Regions from separate parts of the Homo sapiens genome. Here region 2 is linked to region 1. The links come from fine-mapping of genetic effects on plasma protein levels. A gene starts in region 1. The other region holds a variant in brackets. All regions are shown on one strand. Distances are between the middles of the regions. Region 1 holds the start of LAMB1 (laminin subunit beta 1). Region 2 overlaps LAMB4 (laminin subunit beta 4).

The links. PIP is the posterior inclusion probability: the model's chance that the variant is causal. Protein levels are from antibody-based Olink assays in UK Biobank. Linkage for the fine-mapping came from a reference panel and not from the study's own genotypes, which makes the PIPs less certain.
Region 2: its variant is fine-mapped to the plasma level of the LAMB1 protein (UK Biobank, PIP above 0.99).

The regions. Positions count from the first base shown.
Region 1 is chr7:108,002,191-108,005,209 of GRCh38, forward strand. LAMB1 (laminin subunit beta 1) reads right to left here and starts at 971. Exons shown (of 34, transcript NM_002291.3): 1 at 921-971; 2 at 659-781. The coding sequence starts at 695.
Region 2 is chr7:108,098,062-108,100,561 of GRCh38, forward strand. It overlaps LAMB4 (laminin subunit beta 4), which reads right to left. Exons shown (of 34, transcript NM_007356.3): 11 at 342-521. Among named protein-coding and RNA genes, the nearest start is that of LAMB4, 31 kb to the right of the region's middle. The variant A/T (reference allele first, on the strand shown) is at 1,400.

The DNA of each region.
Region 1 (3,019 bases):
GATCTGTGAGCTTGGGAAGCGAGAGTGCGTGTGCGTGCACGCGCGAGGGTCACCGGCGCTTCGCTGGGGACGAGGCGCCGGGGCTCGCGGTGGACGCCGCTTTCCGGAGCTAGGGGAGCCCATGGACAGTCCCTGGGGCTCTGGAGTGGTTTCAAGGCTTCTCCATTCCAGGGAAGCGCCAGGTCCTGCTGTTTCTGGTGCCATCCGGAGACAAACAGAGATGGTTAATTAAAGCCACATGGCCCCCATCTGTTCCCAGAATGAAGCCTCCGCTCAGCTCAGGCACTCTCCTGGGCAATGGATTTTTGGAGAGCCCTCCTCGGTCAGCACCGCCAACCCCAGGGAACCTGCCCTCTGCGGTGGGGAAACCCAGGGTGAACCGGCCGAGGGTGCAAAACCCTGAGCGGGGGCCGCGGGAGGCCGCAGGGGCCGGGGCTTGGGCGCAGAGCCCGGGGGATGAGGGTCCGCGGCGCTCCGCGTGCGCTGTCTCCAGCCACCACCGAAGCAAGGGCGGTGGCGTTTAATCCCAGGGGCGTCATTTCCATCCAGTCCCTCTCCCAAGCCCCCAGGATCCCACGAAGGTGAGCAAGCAGCTTTTGGGTTTTCCTTCCCCATGCCCAAGTCCGTCCGCCTCCCCGCACCGTTTCCACGGAATTACCTAAGAAACTGAAAGCTAGCAACTGGAGAAGCCCCATGCCGGCTCCCTGCAGCCACGGGGACGCGGCAGAGGAGTGGAGAAGACGCCCGCCGAGCCGCCTGCCCTTTCTTCCCGTCTTCCTTTCTGGAGAGGTGGAAAGGAGGGGAAAAAAGGCAAATGTTCAAAGAGAGAAGAGGCGCCCTTCCATTTCCTGTCGCTCCCACGGAAGCGGGGGGTGGGCTGGAAAGTGGGGAAAATCGTGCAGCCACTTTGTTCTCCTCACCCGGCGACGCGAGCTCTCGCCCTGCTCCGGGAGCCCCCGAGCCCAAAGAAGGGAATTAGAAAGTTTAGCCTTGGGAGGAACAGAGGGAGGCGCCTCTGCTCATGCGCATACGGAGAGCCGGGGCTGAAGGGGCGGGCGGCCGCAACTCTGCGAGGACCGGGTGAGGTCCCGGTCCCACCCCCCGGGGCGCCTCTTTTGTTTGAAAGCCGAATCTGCGATCGCTGCGGGGCTGGGGCGCTTCCAGGTCCCAGGGCGGGTCCGCCCCGGGGTGCGCGTCCCAGAACGGCGCGCGGCGGGGCCGTCCAGCGAGGGGGGCGGATGCGTGGGGGCGTCTCCGAGGTGGGTTTTCAGGTTGCCCAGCCAGGGGGCCGGCGGGACCTACCGCGGACTCGCGCATTTACGTTCGCAAGAAGTGAATCACCAAACGTGCCCACGGCTAAAACTCTCGTGCGGTGCGCTCGGGGAAGGCGGGTTAACCCTTTAGAAACAGGGTCGACCTGTCGTGTTTGTTCTTTAGAAAGTGACACTTCCTCTCCGCCCCTAGTATCCAAGAGCTTGGGATGGGCGCGACATCTACAGTGTCTTCCTAGGAAGGAGGAGAAGCTCTGTGCGCCCTGCAATTCTTTGCGCACACATTTATTCAGGACCTATCTGTAATCCCTGTTACCCAGGTGGTCACGGCATTGAATTGAACGTCCAGTTCTGTTTTTAAAAAATCTACTTCCAACATGGTGCAACTCCATCTCTACTAAAAATACAAAAATTAGCTGGGCGTGGTGGCGGGCGCCTGTAATCCCAGCTACTCGGGAGGCCGAGGCACGAAAATCGCTTGAACCTGGGAGAAGGAGGTTGCCGTGAACCGGGATCGTGCCATTGCACTCCAGCCTGGGCAACAAGAGCAAAACTACGTCTCAAAAAAAAAAAAAAATCTTCCTACCTATATCCAGATGATGGCTTTAGCTCAGGTAATTCCTCAAATGACACTATTATTGTTACTGACTCCGTTTCCCATCTCGCCGTGGAAGAGTTGACACAGCCAGGAAGTGGAAATCTCTCATGAGAGGCACTTCCCCACAACGCTCATCTCGACGATTCTCCATGGTGTGCAAATGCTGAGGTGGGGAGAGGGCCTCTAATGAAGGGTCTCTAACAACACAGTGTAACCTGCCTGGTGAAATTAGGGGTACATAGAAACTCACCACCTTCTAGGGGTTGGAGAGGGAAAAGAGGTTGGTGACGGGACCCCACCACCCATTCTGCTACCCTTAGCAATGGACAGAGTCAAAGCTTGGAGTCCTGCTCTGGGCAAATGTGGCTGGAATTCAGGGAGTATAGTTAGTTGTCAGTCCAGTCAGGAGACTTGGCTTGTTTTCCAGTCATTTCCGGGAGAAGAGTTTAAGCGGCTAGCTGGTCAGTTTTTAACTTAGCTGTAACGAAATAAGGCCCAGAGAAGTTTAATCATTAGACCATAGAGTCAGCTGCTTTACGAGTTCGTAAGCCTGCACGAGTCTGAGGCAGGCGGGAGCCTTGGGGTCTAGGTGAGTGAGGCATTAATTATTCACCAAATCAGCACTTGCCCTGCTACAGCCTGGGGAGGTTTTGCCTCTGCTGAGGCTTAGGATCCTCTGCGCCGGCTGGGTAGCCTGAAAGCGCTGAGAAAGTCCTTGCTGTTGGGAGGCTGTAGAATTGCAATGGAGGGTCTTCAGGGCTTAATTAAAAGAAAAATATTAAAAGGCAAATGTCTTTTCTTCCTGTTGAGCTTTTAATACCCTGGGCCAGAGTTTCGTATTTTCATGTGCACACACTGCAAGCATCTTTCAGCTCCTTTTCTTTCTTGAGCCTAACCTCTGCTCTCACAGCAGCTGAGCCCTCCTTGCTACCTGTCCCTGCTCAGCGTCCTCTCCCCTTGCAAAAGGTCATTTACTTTCAGCACTGTTCAGAAGCCTACCTGCTCTCCTGATCACCTCACTTGCAGTAGTAAATTGAACACTACTGAGAAAATTAGGTTTTTAAAAATTTGCCTGTATATGTGCAGGGGGAGGAGTGTGTGTAACACTCACCTTCTGACCACTTCATCTATGAATTTGCCTACCTCCCTT
Region 2 (2,500 bases), 96 kb after region 1:
ACAGAGACAGCCCCAAGCTTTAAAACGCATAGGGGCCGAGGTGGGCGGATCACTTGAGGTCAGGAGTTTGAAACCAGCCTGGCCAACATGGTGAAACCCCGTCTATATTAAAAATACAAAAATTATCTGGGCGTGGTGGTGGTCGCCTGTAATCCCAGCTACTCGGGAGGCTGAGGAAGGAGAATTGCTTGAACCTGGGAGGTGGAGGTTGGAGTGAGCCGAGATTTTGCCACTGTACTCCAGCCTGGGCGACAGAGCGAGACTCCATCTCAAAAACAGACAAACCAACCAACCACATAGGGGTTGATGGACACTCCCCCGACCCCCGATTATGGACTTACGCTGGCAGCCCAGGGGGTCGGTGGCGCTTAGTCCGTAGTGGTTGGGTTTGCACTGGTCGCATTTGGCTCCTTCCACGTTCTCTTTACAAAGGCACTGGCCGGCCACAGACCCTAAGGCAGGATCAGAGTGGCTCACACAAATGCCACCAGATATGGTCCCATCGGGGTCACATTCACAAGCTGGGGACACAGACATTCATTGTTTTAGTTAATTGCAAATTGTGGGAAGCCTGAAATATAAGCACGGCATTTTACTCATGCTATAACTATCTTGCTTTGTTTAAATAATTAAATGTTTAAATAATTAGACCACCTGGCAAGAGCTATTCAGAAATGTCTCCCAGATCTCTAGCCTTGGAAAACGTTGAATAAATCCATGCATATATTTTTAAAAGACTTTTAAATGATTCGAAAGTCAGAGGACCAGAGGAAGACTGCTGTTATGAAAATTAAGACTAGATTATGTTAAGAATAGACTGATTCTTCTGGGGATGATGAGAACGTTTTGGAATTAGGTAGATGGGATGGCTGCACAACATTGTGCTGGTGAACTGTTGTTCATTTAAAAATGGTTAATATTTTATGTTATGTGAATTTCATCTAAAAATAGATTTTAAAAAAGACTCTAAAGGTGAAAATAAGGTCAAAATCTCTGAAACGTGCTTAAAAAGTAAGTCTCTCCTCTATCACAGAAAAATATGTCACAAGGAAAAGTGACATTCTATTTTATTTTTCCTGGAAGAAACACCTGTAAGAAGGAAAGGGAGGGAATAGTGAGAAGTATTCATATCCTTGGTTTTGTTGGGGGGAAATCTGCTGACAGGTCAAGAGCTTGATGGAAGAGATTCTGGAAAATGGGATAAACAGTCACTTGCAGCAAAGGAGCCACAATGGTAGCAACCTTTTTCCTGTTGTTGTTGTAGACATTTGAACAACTCAAGGATGGTGTGTCATATGAAAAAGAATGTTGACAGTTTGAGTTAATTCCAGAGGGTAGAACCAGGAGAGAGTAGAAGTCACAAAAGGTAGCACTTGATTGAGTTTGAGGAAGAACTCTC[A/T]AATAGTTAGGGGTGCCCAATACTGCAGCGAACCCCTCATCATCGGAGGTGTCCAGGTAGATGTTGAAACAGCACTTGTGGCTTTGGTATGGATGACAAATGTGTTGTTGGGCATTAGATGACCACCAAGGTCTCTTGTACCTTTGTGGTTCTGTGTTTCCATGGGGTTCCACTTTTAAGGCGTGTAATAAAAATAAAAATATGAATATCCTGATTTTAAGGAACAGTCACATTCACATTTATACATGCTTGCTTTGGATTACTAAAAACAAAACTGTCAAGTCTAAAACCATGTCTATATAACCACCATTTAGGTTAGTGAGTTTAGTGGAAACAATTCAGTCAAACCAGTTGTTTCGCATTATTGAAGCAACTGGTGTTTGCTCTCTGACACAATCTTTCAAATTTCAATGATTTGTTACTTGTTATTGTTTTGTGACTGGTGACTTACTATGAAAAAATAGCATTGAGTTCTGTTTAGTTTGGAAAAGCCACAATTTTCTTCTAATTAAAGCCAGTTGCTTCTAGAAAGAAGGGAACAAACTGGATTCATCTTAATAGTGGCCAAAAGGAAAAAGCTACAATTTCTTTGGGAGACACTCCAAAGAATCAGTATTGAGTTCCAGAGAATAATTTAATTATGCACAGAAGTATCCTTTGGGAAAGAGATGTGGGAAGGGTGGATAGTAAATGTTCTTTGAAATAGCCTTATGTCATGACCTTTAGAAGTCTAATTGAATGTCTTGGTGTCACATAATTCTAGCAAACTTTTATTATCAAGTAGTTGAGTCTACCAAATCTTGGTTTTTCTGTATCAAATTTAATGGCAACTTAATTGTAGAAAACTTAAAATTAGTCAACTCTTATGCCTGGAATCTGCTTATGTAAATATTTAGGTTCAAACAAGGACAACTTAGAGAAAATTTATATGAGAATTCTAATCAATCTTCAAATACACATCATTTGTATATATACACATAAACATTTGTTTAGGTAAACTGGGAGAAACTGGGGTGTCTCATGATAGTAGTTTGTTACAAGCTCCTCATCTACCTTTTATGGAAAAATTCCTTGTTTACAAAGAATGACTTCTTACTTTCA